2 linked regions of the Homo sapiens genome follow. The protein of the gene in region 1 interacts with the protein of each later gene in a biochemical or structural test. Each region holds a gene or a part of one and is shown on either strand. Other genes may lie near its edges. The genes, in order: PPP1R12A and DMPK.

What was found.
Region 2: of the proteins of PPP1R12A (region 1) and DMPK, one has a biochemical effect on the other in vitro, tested with the Homo sapiens proteins (one study listed by IntAct).

What each region holds. Positions count from the first base shown.
Region 1 is NC_000012.12:79,772,991-79,778,296, reverse strand, and holds the end of PPP1R12A (protein phosphatase 1 regulatory subunit 12A), read left to right. Parts: intron 1-2,281; coding exon 2,282-2,368; 3' UTR 2,369-4,729; downstream 4,730-5,306. UniProt on the Homo sapiens protein: Key regulator of protein phosphatase 1C (PPP1C). Mediates binding to myosin. As part of the PPP1C complex, involved in dephosphorylation of PLK1. Capable of inhibiting HIF1AN-dependent suppression of HIF1A activity.
Region 2 is NC_000019.10:45,779,485-45,787,730, reverse strand, and holds the start of DMPK (myotonin-protein kinase), read left to right. Parts: upstream 1-5,240; 5' UTR 5,241-5,359; coding exon of another isoform or gene 5,360-5,378; coding exon 5,379-5,538; exon of another isoform or gene 5,539-7,349; coding exon of another isoform or gene 7,350-7,408; exon of another isoform or gene 7,409-7,671; coding exon of another isoform or gene 7,672-7,861; coding exon 7,862-7,953; intron 7,954-8,111; exon of another isoform or gene 8,112-8,208; coding exon 8,209-8,246. Other genes in the region: DMWD (dystrophia myotonica WD repeat-containing protein), read left to right, coding at 860-2,137, 3,016-3,090, 3,441-3,488. UniProt on the Homo sapiens protein: Non-receptor serine/threonine protein kinase which is necessary for the maintenance of skeletal muscle structure and function.

The sequences.
Region 1 (5,306 bases):
TAATTAATTTGTGTAGCACTTTTGCTGTTCAGGTATAGAAAAAGTTAGACAATAATAATAAGATGTAGGATTTATTATTTATTCTTTATGTTTCTATATACTTTCATGTTTTTTGGCGAGTAAGTAGTGGAGGGGGTTACTATAAAATGTTCTCCTTTGAAAGTAAAGGACATTAGGGGAGTGAACAGGCAGAGCTGTATTTTATCAAACTCCATATTACCTATAGAAATAATTATGTTTTGAATGTCTTCACAAGTAGCATAGTTAATTGATTACCTCTTACCACACTGTCCTTCATAAAATCTTTATCACATTGTGAATTAATGAACCAGTGCATAGTAAGTATATTGTACCCACAGAATTAGAAGTTCAAGATTTAGATATTTCATTATTAAATTGTTTGGTTTGTTATTAGACCATTATTGAATGGCTTTGAAGATTGGAGACAAATCTTTTGTATTTTGTTTGCTTATGTATTACTTAGTTTGAAATAGAATTTTAGGAATACAGTGTTTACCTTTCTGAATCTCTTGTTCCTTTAAGACGTAATATTTTTAAAAAATTACCTGTGATTACATTCTTATTATACTCTTTTCCATTTTCTTATTTTTTATTCCTATTTCTTTATGTTCTGATTCCTGCAGAACCTGCACCAAATAAAGCAAATTCAATCTCTGAGGGAGTTAAATGAGCGACTGCTGACTGAGAATAGGGCCTTGACAAGAGTGGTAGCCAAGCGCTCAGGGTTCTATAGGCAACTGCAGTCTGTGAACCTATAATTTTTAGTTTCATCATTTCTTCTTGGTAGAGCCAGGCAGGTGTTTTTATATTAGTAGGCGTGTTTTGTAAGAGCTCACTTTTACAAATTAATGCCATTGTGTCTGGAGCATATCATATAACTAATTATGCATGGCTTCTTAGAATGTTAGAAATTGTCACTAATTGTATATTGCAATTGATGAGCTACATTAAAATTAGGGATGATTTTGGAATTTAAGTTAAAGACTTATCTGTACTTTTGTAAAGCTTTTGCACATTTTTTAGCTATACAGATATTTTAGGACTTAAAATATGACTATTATTTACAGTTCTTTACTAGAGAGAAAACCAACAGTATATAACATTTTACATATAATTAATATATTTTGAAGCTGAAGATTAAGCATGCATTATGTTTTTCAAAATAATGTCATTTGAAGTCAGAACCACATTAGTTTATATTTAAGTTTATATTACAAATATTCAAATGAATAAACTTAATATTACTATATTTTATATCTTAAAGATTCTGAACACAGATAAGAACATATTGGTTCCACGTAAAATTAAATCTTCTTAAAGATTTTGCTTTACCTAGTTTTGCAAATAGAAGTTTTACTTTTATCAAGTTAGATAAACTAATACATTTTGAAAACTGAGGAAAGAGGACTATTTTGGAAAGTATGGTTTAGGGACCAAAAATATGAGCTATTTCATTTCCTAGTGAAACTGGCAAAGAACATACAGTTTTAATCATCCTTAGTAGAGTATTCAGTTAACTTGTAATATTTTCACCCCTTCATCAATTTGTCTGTAAAACAACAGAAAATTGAGATGTGTTGTTTGAAGATATGAGGCTATTTGCTTCAAAATTGGTTATTTTTGTAATAGTTGGATCATAGATACAGACTTTCTACTTTAGCTTAAACATGATGCACTATTCTAATAATAGTAATTGCTTGTTACCATTTAATAAGCATCTATCTGGGATCGGACATTGTTTAGGCATTTTAAACTGAGCTACTGTAGGTGAATCGTTTAAGGAATTTTAATAATTTAGAACAAGTCTAATTTCCTCAATGTTTTCCTAGGTAGTTTGACTTTCTTGTGGAACAATATTAAGTATTATGATTTTAGGTCTGACATACATAAAAGCAAAAGTCTTTGGTTTAGGTGCTGACAGGAACCTCTTTTAAGAGCCTATCCTAACAAAAACAGGCTTGTCTTGGCTGCTGGAATGTGGTGTGCTTGTGAGTCATAAAATCAAGTGATTTAGTAAATTTCAATGGAAAATTTGGAGAGAATAAACCTTTCATTCCAGCATTTATGAAACTAATTAGCTTTACAAATCCAGGTGTGGTTTTTTTCCTTCTTCCTGATACATGTTTTAGATACTAGAAATATATATAACTGACAAAGCTTGATCATGTGTTTTGTGGTGAAAATATAACATTTATTAAGAATAATGTTTTATCTTTTAATATTGAAGGTAAAACTTGATCTTCAATTTTTCTCTTTATAGATGTTACCAGACCTAAAAGCAGACAACCAGAGGCTAAAGGATGAAAATGGGGCCTTGATCAGAGTTATAAGCAAACTTTCCAAATAAAAAAAAAAAAAGCAGCAAGTAATGGAATTGCACATATTAGTAACCCAGTGGACCATAATTGGCAGTCACTGGAAGTCTGGGAAGAATCCTTGGAGACTGTCATTTTCGGATATCCTGCCAAATGCCCTCTTATCTAGAATTTTTGTTTCATTTTGTTTAATTTTCTGGGGTGTTTTTGTTGTTGTTGGTTTGTTTTTTGTTTTTTTTTTTTAATCAAGACCATTGTTTCATGTTAATGCAGCTGCTGAGAAGATTTTTTTTTAATGACTGAGAAAACTTGTTTACAGCTCCAGCATATAAGGAAAGTGTTCAAGGCCAGATATGCCTCAGATATTTAACCAGTAAGCCTTAGTTGTACATAAATACTTTTGTGTCAACAAAAACTTTCAGCTCTCACAGAAGACAGTTACTCAACATTTTTTGATGTGCCACAGTTTCGAGTTTTTCGATATTTAAATTTTTTGGCTTTTCATCTAAGTTTGGGTTTGTATTTTTTCCTTCTAAACTCTTCATGTGGCAGAGTCTTCTATGTTTTCACAGCTTTTTCATTACAGAAAAGAACACTTGCTCTTCTGTGATTATTGTCATGTATTAGGCTAATGCTGTGTTGTCTCCCACCTGGAACTGAATTGCTTGGTGGAACATATGCTTTCACTGTTTGTGCAATATGCATTTATTTCTTATATGAATGCTTTAAAGTCATTTGAGGTTAGATCTTTTAATTCCTATTTTCTGCTTCATTGGTCACTTTTTTTTTATTGTAGTATAAGATGTTAGATTCTGTAATCTTCACATTCATTTTAGCAGGTACTGAGTGATGCTGTATATACAAATAAGTGTATTGTTTTGATTTTTAGACCACCACATGGCATGCTTGACTATTTCTTATTTCAAATGTCTGCTAATGCAGAGTAGGCTACTCCATGATAGTGTTAAAAAACAAAATTTGCTAACAATGTGATATAAAGACTTTAAAAGTTACACATTATGTGGAGCCCTATCTTTACAAAAGTTTCCTACTGTAAAGTGCTTTTATTTTCAGTTTTCACTTGATAGTACTCAACCATAATTAAAGTTGCATAAGATAATTGCTTTACATTTCACATACCTATATTTATCTGAGTGCTGTCTAAAACTGTTGTGCTAGCCAAAGTAATGCTATGAAATCATTTGCAGAATTAACCCGTGAGTTAATGTTAAATGCACTGTTATTGCCATGTGAAGAGGCATCGACTTTGATACCACCATCATGTTCAGACCATTTTATACATTTCAGTGGCCTTTTTTTTTTTTTAAGGAAAAAAAAGCGCAAAACCAAGTACATAGTGACGATGGCTTTTATTTGGACAAATAGCTTTTATATTTTCATTAAACCATGCAAAAAATACTACATCTTTCTGGCACATAACTGTCTCCTTAACCACTGAACAGTTCAGCCATTTGAATAAATTGTACATTGTAAAGCTTATAGTAGCTGATTGTATTATTGATTGTATTGTATACTATATTAAATGTGAATTTGTACCCCTTCATTTTAAAAGGTCATTGTGTTCTACTGCCTATTTTAGATTACTTTGGGGTTGGGGAAGGGTGTTTTGGTAAGCAGGATTTTAAGTCCTCTCTCTCTCGATTGGTTTTATGAAGATATAAGGTTATGCTCTTACTACCAAGCTCAGGATTCTTGATTTTAAAGGTACAAGGATAGTTGTGGGAGTTTTATTTTTGGTTATATTTGAACTGTATGAATGGTAGGTCTGAATATTGAGAATTTCCATGGTCTTATGTGGAGGTAAAATATACAGATAACTGATCAGTTTGAGTGACTGCAACATGTTCTGGTTGCACAACAGTTAGGCATGCTATGGTTTATATTTGTGAAGTTTGGATGCCTGTGAAGAATGATTAAATACATGTTTCTAATATTTTAGTGTTTTGTATTTAGGTTATTTATTCTTTGTATCTAAAACTGAACAGCTACTGTGCTATATTGATTTTATTGGTAGTATTGAGCAGACCTTGTTTCTGCATGAAACTAGTTGCAAAACCCACTATTTTGGAAATAAAAATGTATTTTGACATATACAAATAAAATGAATAAAACTATTTTAAATGTGTGAACTTTTAATGAAGACATTTTAAATTTTGTTCTGAGATATTTAAATTCTGCATGGGTATTTTTTCACTAATTGCTTTACTTGGATACCAATTTGAATAATTTCTGAAATTGTAATATTGTGATAATTTGCACAGCATTGTACATGCACATCTGTAAATGCAATCTTAATTGCCATATTTATGCAATCTGTGTACCAATTTGGACAAATGTTTATATATTTTACATAAAGCTGTCTGTATGCAGAATCTGAGAACTAGTTTTTTTATGATAATAAGTGGGTAAAAATTAATAACAGTGAGTTTCAGGGTAGTTGCTTTGTAGCACAAGATTTCGCTTCCATAAACATTGTTTTTTTTTTTTTTCTTAAAGTAAACCTGTGCTTTTTCTTATCTGCAAACATAGGCTTAGCGATACATATAAAGGTAATATTCCATTGAAACATACAGTTTACTTTAATATTAGATCATTTTCCAATTTAGATTTGTCCAAGGTTCGACCTGCTAACACATCTATAAATAAGAGGCACTTTTAGCCAGGCATGGTTGGGAGGCCCAGGCGGGAGGATCACCTGAGGTCAGGGGTTTGAGACCAGCCTGGCCAACAGGGCGAAACCCCGTTTCTACTAAAAATAAAAAATGAGCCAGGTATGATGGTGCAATCGCCTGTAGTCCCAGCTACTCAGGAGGCTGAGACAGGAGAATCACTTGAACCAGGGAGGCAGAGGTTGTAGTGAGCCAAGATTGTGCCACTGCACTTCAGCCTGGGCAACAGAGTGAGACTCCGTCTCAAAAAAAAAAAAAAAAAAAGGCACTTTTGATTTTG
Region 2 (8,246 bases), on another chromosome or scaffold:
AGGAAAAGAGGGGCAGATGCCGAGGTTTTTTGTCTAAGCACCTAGCGGGATGGGGGGTTGTCACTCATTTGTCCAGGAATTACCTTCAAGCTGCCTCCTGTGTGCACTGCTTTAAAGAATAGTGAACCAAACAAAGATCGCTTCCTTTGGGGAGCTGCCTTTCCGTGAAGAAATTTCCTACTTGAAGCCTGACGTAGTAAAGATCGGGGGAGGGTTAGACAGATACAGTGGTCCCCAACCATTTTGGCACCAGGGACTGGTCTTATGGAAGACAGTTTTTCCACAGACTGTTGGGGGGATGGTTTTGGGATGAAACCGTTCTGCCTCTGATCATCAGGTGTTAGATTCTAATAAGGAGCGCACACCTAGATCCCTCGCATGCATAGTTCATGGTGGGGTTCGCACTCTTACGAGGATTGAATGGTGCGCTGCTCCGGTAGGAGGCTGGGCTCAGGCTGTAATGCCTGCTCGCCCACCACTCACCTCCTGCTGCATGGCCTGGTTCCTAACAGGCCACGGACCACTACTGTTCCATGGCCCGGAGGTTGAGGACCCCGAGATACAGGACAATTCTGTGGCAAGCAGGACTGTCCCCTCGCCAAAGATGGGACATCGAGGCTCCTTGGAGCACCCTGTGGCCACCTTGCAGCAGCCTCTGTTTCCCCATGTTTCCATGACCTGGTGTCCATCTGTCTTCCCCAGTTTGGGAGCTTCTCTCCGAGGAGGACCTGGGCCTGGTGTGGCACCTGCTGTGTGAGCGGGGCCATGTCCAACGGCCTTCTTGGGGACTTTGGGTCGGGGAGAAGTTCTGCCTGGGTTTTACTGCCTTCTCCCAACCCCACACTGTCTCCCCTGGCAGCGGTTGATCGACAAGACCAAGGTGACATATCTGAAGTGGCTGCCTGAGTCGGAGAGCCTGTTCCTGGCATCACACGCCAGTGGCCACCTGTACCTGTACAACGTCAGCCACCCCTGCGCCTCGGCCCCGCCCCAGTACAGCCTGCTGAAGCAGGGCGAGGGCTTCTCTGTCTATGCTGCCAAGAGCAAGGCACCCCGCAACCCGCTGGCCAAGTGGGCGGTGGGTGAGGGGCCCCTCAACGAGTTCGCCTTCTCGCCCGATGGCCGGCACCTGGCCTGTGTGAGCCAGGATGGCTGCCTGCGCGTCTTCCACTTCGACTCCATGCTCCTGCGTGGGCTCATGAAGAGCTACTTTGGGGGCCTGCTGTGTGTGTGCTGGAGCCCTGACGGCCGCTACGTGGTGACGGGTGGCGAAGATGACCTGGTCACCGTGTGGTCCTTCACCGAGGGCCGCGTGGTGGCTCGAGGCCATGGCCACAAGTCCTGGGTCAACGCTGTGGCCTTTGACCCCTACACCACAAGGGCAGAGGAGGCGGCGACAGCAGCCGGTGCTGATGGGGAGCGGAGCGGCGAAGAGGAGGAGGAGGAGCCCGAGGCTGCGGGCACAGGCTCGGCCGGGGGCGCCCCGCTCTCTCCACTGCCCAAGGCTGGCTCCATTACTTACCGCTTTGGCTCGGCGGGCCAGGACACGCAGTTCTGCCTGTGGGACCTCACTGAAGACGTGCTCTACCCGCACCCCCCCCTGGCCCGCACCCGCACCCTCCCTGGCACACCTGGCACCACGCCACCGGCCGCCAGCAGCTCGAGGGGTGGCGAGCCTGGCCCAGGCCCCCTGCCTCGCTCGCTGTCCCGCTCCAACAGTCTCCCGCACCCAGCTGGCGGGGGCAAGGCGGGCGGCCCGGGTGTGGCGGCAGAGCCTGGCACACCATTCAGCATTGGCCGCTTCGCCACGCTCACACTGCAGGAGCGGCGGGACCGGGGGGCAGAGAAGGAGCACAAGCGCTACCACAGCCTGGGCAACATCAGCCGGGGTGGCAGTGGCGGCAGTGGCAGTGGTGGGGAGAAGCCCAGCGGCCCTGTTCCCCGCAGCCGCCTGGACCCCGCCAAGGTGCTGGGCACTGCGCTGTGCCCGCGCATCCACGAGGTGCCCCTGCTGGAGCCCCTTGTGTGCAAGAAGATCGCCCAGGAGCGGCTCACAGTCCTCCTGTTCCTGGAGGACTGCATCATCACTGCCTGCCAGGAGGGCCTCATCTGCACCTGGGCCCGGCCGGGCAAGGCGGTGAGTGGCCCCACACCAGCCTGCCGGGGACCTGGCAGGACCTTTCGTGGGAAGAGGCAGGCATTGGCAGAGAGAGGGCTTTGTTGCTGTCACAGCCTCTGGCTCCGTGGGGTGAGGGGAAGCCAGGGAAATCTTAGTGTCTCAGTACAAGACCTCTCAGATCCTTAGAGTGAGGGGGTCTAGCCCTAGGCAGCAGGCAGCAGAAAGAGGGGTGGGTGTGAGAGCCAGCTAGGAATTGGGGCATCCAAGGCTGGCCGTCTGAAGGGCAGCAGATGGGCCCCACATGGCCAGGTCTTACTGCCTGTCACTCGAACCAGAATCTATTTCTGTTGAACATCTGTTTTTTAAATCGTGAAACTTTTTTGAGTACTTCAGGCCAAAACTAGGGGCGAGCTCAAGCCTGTGGGCATGGCTGCCAGCCTGGGTCTGGGACTCAGGATCTGAGCCTCCTGCTGAAGGCACAGGCTGGGAATCCCAGGCCTGGGTTCCAGTCCCACTCCCTCTGTGACCCTGGACAAGTCACTGCCCCCTCTGACCTCCAACTCATCACCTCTTAGAACAGAGCCTGTAGGATGGGCAGTGGGTGGATGTGCTTGCCTCCTGGGTGGGCTGTGGCGTTGGGAAGGTCATAGTAGGCGAATCAGGCCTGGCATCTTGTAAGTTCGGAGCTCGTCTTGGGTGTCTCAGCTTCTTAGGGCTTGGACTCAGTTGCCCAGGGTCCTGGAGGCCGTGGCTTGGTTCCTCAGATCCTCAGTTTTGGAATCGTAGAGTCCTGAGTCCCTAGAACTTGAGAGCACAGTCTGAGTGACTCAGAGGCAAGAGTGGTGGGATTTGGGGAGTCTGGTTGAGTCCTAAAAGAGACCCCTCTGTCTCCGTAGTTCACAGACGAGGAGACCGAGGCCCAGACAGGGGAAGGAAGTTGGCCCAGGTCACCCAGCAAGTCAGTGGTAGAGGTAGGACTGTCCCTGAGTTCTTTCCCCAGCACCTCAGGGTCCCTCCCAAGTTAGAAGGGAGCTCCAGTTTCCCCCTCCCCTCCCACCCTTACCCTTACCCCATGGTCTCACTCAGGATCCGCCAAGGACTTTGATTATTGCGTGAAAGTGCTGACTGCCAGGACAGGAAGCTAGCTAAGATGCAAGTTCCCAGCCTAGAGCAGTGGCCTCTGGGGGGTCTAGGGCGGACCCAAGGGCAAGGCCAGGGTGGCAGCAGCTTTGGGGACTCTGGGCTGGCTCCCTCCCCTTGACACTGGCTGAAGCCCAGGTGGTCTCTAACCCCTCCCATCTCTCCCTCTCATCTTCCCCAGGGCATCTCCTCCCAACCAGGCAACTCCCCGAGTGGCACAGTGGTGTGAAGCCATGGATATCGGGCCCCCCCAACCCCATGCCCCCAGCCTCCTAGCCATAACCCTCCCTGCTGACCTCACAGATCAACGTATTAACAAGACTAACCATGATGGATGGACTGCTCCAGTCCCCCCACCTGCACAAAATTTGGGGGCCCCCCAGACTGGCCCGGACACGGGCGATGTAATAGCCCTTGTGGCCTCAGCCTTGTCCCCCACCCACTGCCAAGTACAATGACCTCTTCCTCTGAAACATCAGTGTTACCCTCATCCCTGTCCCCAGCATGTGACTGGTCACTCCTGGGGAGAGACTCCCCGCCCCTGCCACAAGAGCCCCAGGTCTGCAGTGTGCCCCTCAGTTGAGTGGGCAGGGCCGGGGGTGGTCCAGCCCTCGCCCGGCCCCCACCCCAGCTGCCCTTGCTATTGTCTGTGCTTTTGAAGAGTGTTAAATTATGGAAGCCCCTCAGGTTCCTCCCTGTCCCGCAGGACCTCTTATTTATACTAAAGTTCCCTGTTTTCTCAGCGGGTCTGTCCCCTTCGGAGGAGATGATGTAGAGGACCTGTGTGTGTACTCTGTGGTTCTAGGCAGTCCGCTTTCCCCAGAGGAGGAGTGCAGGCCTGCTCCCAGCCCAGCGCCTCCCACCCCTTTTCATAGCAGGAAAAGCCGGAGCCCAGGGAGGGAACGGACCTGCGAGTCACACAACTGGTGACCCACACCAGCGGCTGGAGCAGGACCCTCTTGGGGAGAAGAGCATCCTGCCCGCAGCCAGGGCCCCTCATCAAAGTCCTCGGTGTTTTTTAAATTATCAGAACTGCCCAGGACCACGTTTCCCAGGCCCTGCCCAGCTGGGACTCCTCGGTCCTTGCCTCCTAGTTTCTCAGGCCTGGCCCTCTCAAGGCCCAGGCACCCCAGGCCGGTTGGAGGCCCCGACTTCCACTCTGGAGAACCGTCCACCCTGGAAAGAAGAGCTCAGATTCCTCTTGGCTCTCGGAGCCGCAGGGAGTGTGTCTTCCCGCGCCACCCTCCACCCCCCGAAATGTTTCTGTTTCTAATCCCAGCCTGGGCAGGAATGTGGCTCCCCGGCCAGGGGCCAAGGAGCTATTTTGGGGTCTCGTTTGCCCAGGGAGGGCTTGGCTCCACCACTTTCCTCCCCCAGCCTTTGGGCAGCAGGTCACCCCTGTTCAGGCTCTGAGGGTGCCCCCTCCTGGTCCTGTCCTCACCACCCCTTCCCCACCTCCTGGGAAAAAAAAAAAAAAAAAAAAAAAAAGCTGGTATAAAGCAGAGAGCCTGAGGGCTAAATTTAACTGTCCGAGTCGGAATCCATCTCTGAGTCACCCAAGAAGCTGCCCTGGCCTCCCGTCCCCTTCCCAGGCCTCAACCCCTTTCTCCCACCCAGCCCCAACCCCCAGCCCTCACCCCCTAGCCCCCAGTTCTGGAGCTTGTCGGGAGCAAGGGGGTGGTTGCTACTGGGTCACTCAGCCTCAATTGGCCCTGTTTCAGCAATGGGCAGGTTCTTCTTGAAATTCATCACACCTGTGGCTTCCTCTGTGCTCTACCTTTTTATTGGGGTGACAGTGTGACAGCTGAGATTCTCCATGCATTCCCCCTACTCTAGCACTGAAGGGTTCTGAAGGGCCCTGGAAGGAGGGAGCTTGGGGGGCTGGCTTGTGAGGGGTTAAGGCTGGGAGGCGGGAGGGGGGCTGGACCAAGGGGTGGGGAGAAGGGGAGGAGGCCTCGGCCGGCCGCAGAGAGAAGTGGCCAGAGAGGCCCAGGGGACAGCCAGGGACAGGCAGACATGCAGCCAGGGCTCCAGGGCCTGGACAGGGGCTGCCAGGCCCTGTGACAGGAGGACCCCGAGCCCCCGGCCCGGGGAGGGGCCATGGTGCTGCCTGTCCAACATGTCAGCCGAGGTGCGGCTGAGGCGGCTCCAGCAGCTGGTGTTGGACCCGGGCTTCCTGGGGCTGGAGCCCCTGCTCGACCTTCTCCTGGGCGTCCACCAGGAGCTGGGCGCCTCCGAACTGGCCCAGGACAAGTACGTGGCCGACTTCTTGCAGTGGGGTGAGTGCCTACCCTCGGGGCTCCTGCAGATGGGGTGGGGGTGGGGCAGGAGACAGGTCTGGGCACAGAGGCCTGGCTGTTGGGGGGGCAGGATGGCAGGATGGGCATGGGGAGATCCTCCCATCCTGGGGCTCAGAGTGTGGACCTGGGCCCTGGGGCAACATTTCTCTGTCCTATGCCACCACTCTGGAGGGGCAGAGTAAGGTCAGCAGAGGCTAGGGTGGCTGTGACTCAGAGCCATGGCTTAGGAGTCACAGCAGGCTAGGCTGCCAACAGCCTCCCATGGCCTCTCTGCACCCCGCCTCAGGGTCAGGGTCAGGGTCATGCTGGGAGCTCCCTCTCCTAGGACCCTCCCCCCAAAAGTGGGCTCTATGGCCCTCTCCCCTGGTTTCCTGTGGCCTGGGGCAAGCCAGGAGGGCCAGCATGGGGCAGCTGCCAGGGGCGCAGCCGACAGGCAGGTGTTCGGCGCCAGCCTCTCCAGCTGCCCCAACAGGTGCCCAGGCACTGGGAGGGCGGTGACTCACGCGGGCCCTGTGGGAGAACCAGCTTTGCAGACAGGCGCCACCAGTGCCCCCTCCTCTGCGATCCAGGAGGGACAACTTTGGGTTCTTCTGGGTGTGTCTCCTTCTTTTGTAGGTTCTGCACCCACCCCCACCCCCAGCCCCAAAGTCTCGGTTCCTATGAGCCGTGTGGGTCAGCCACCATTCCCGCCACCCCGGGTCCCTGCGTCCTTTAGTTCTCCTGGCCCAGGGCCTCCAACCTTCCAGCTGTCCCACAAAACCCCTTCTTGCAAGGGCTTTCCAGGGCCTGGGGCCAGGGCTGGAAGGAGGATGCTTCCGCTTCTGCCAGCTGCCTTGTCTGCCCACCTCCTCCCCAAGCCCAGGACTCGGGCTCACTGGTCACTGGTTTCTTTCATTCCCAGCACCCTGCCCCTCTGGCCCTCATATGTCTGGCCCTCAGTGACTGGTGTTTGGTTTTTGGCCTGTGTGTAACAAACTGTGTGTGACACTTGTTTCCTGTTTCTCCGCCTTCCCCTGCTTCCTCTTGTGTCCATCTCTTTCTGACCCAGGCCTGGTTCCTTTCCCTCCTCCTCCCATTTCACAGATGGGAAGGTGGAGGCCAAGAAGGGCCAGGCCATTCAGCCTCTGGAAAAACCTTCTCCCAACCTCCCACAGCCCCTAATGACTCTCCTGGCCTCCCTTTAGTAGAGGATGAAGTTGGGTTGGCAGGGTAAACTGAGACCGGGTGGGGTAGGGGTCTGGCGCTCCCGGGAGGAGCACTCCTTTTGTGGCCCGAGCTGCATCTCGCGGCCCCTCCCCTGCCAGGCCTGGGGCGGGGGAGGGGGCCAGGGTTCCTGCTGCCTTAAAAGGGCTCAATGTCTTGGCTCTCTCCTCCCTCCCCCGTCCTCAGCCCTGGCTGGTTCGTCCCTGCTGGCCCACTCTCCCGGAACCCCCCGGAACCCCTCTCTTTCCTCCAGAACCCACTGTCTCCTCTCCTTCCCTCCCCTCCCATACCCATCCCTCTCTCCATCCTGCCTCCACTTCTTCCACCCCCGGGAGTCCAGGCCTCCCTGTCCCCACAGTCCCTGAGCCACAAGCCTCCACCCCAGCTGGTCCCCCACCCAGGCTGCCCAGTTTAACATTCCTAGTCATAGGACCTTGACTTCTGAGAGGCCTGATTGTCATCTGTAAATAAGGGGTAGGACTAAAGCACTCCTCCTGGAGGACTGAGAGATGGGCTGGACCGGAGCACTTGAGTCTGGGATATGTGACCATGCTACCTTTGTCTCCCTGTCCTGTTCCTTCCCCCAGCCCCAAATCCAGGGTTTTCCAAAGTGTGGTTCAAGAACCACCTGCATCTGAATCTAGAGGTACTGGATACAACCCCACGTCTGGGCCGTTACCCAGGACATTCTACATGAGAACGTGGGGGTGGGGCCCTGGCTGCACCTGAACTGTCACCTGGAGTCAGGGTGGAAGGTGGAAGAACTGGGTCTTATTTCCTTCTCCCCTTGTTCTTTAGGGTCTGTCCTTCTGCAGACTCCGTTACCCCACCCTAACCATCCTGCACACCCTTGGAGCCCTCTGGGCCAATGCCCTGTCCCGCAAAGGGCTTCTCAGGCATCTCACCTCTATGGGAGGGCATTTTTGGCCCCCAGAACCTTACACGGTGTTTATGTGGGGAAGCCCCTGGGAAGCAGACAGTCCTAGGGTGAAGCTGAGAGGCAGAGAGAAGGGGAGACAGACAGAGGGTGGGGCTTTCCCCCTTGTCTCCAGTGCCCTTTCTGGTGACCCTCGGTTCTTTTCCCCCACCACCCCCCCAGCGGAGCCCATCGTGGTGAGGCTTAAGGAGGTCCGACTGCAGAGGGACGACTTCGAGATTCTGAAGGTGATCGGACGCGGGGCGTTCAGCGAGGTAAGCCGAACCGGGCGGGAGCCTGACTTGACTCGTGGTGGGCGGGGCATAGGGGTTGGGGCGGGGCCTTAGAAATTGATGAATGACCGAGCCTTAGAACCTAGGGCTGGGCTGGAGGCGGGGCTTGGGACCAATGGGCGTGGTGTGGCAGGTGGGGCGGGGCCACGGCTGGGTGCAGAAGCGGGTGGAGTTGGGTCTGGGCGAGCCCTTTTGTTTTCCCGCCGTCTCCACTCTGTCTCACTATCTCGACCTCAGGTAGCGGTAGTGAAGATGAAGCAGACGGGCCAGGTGTA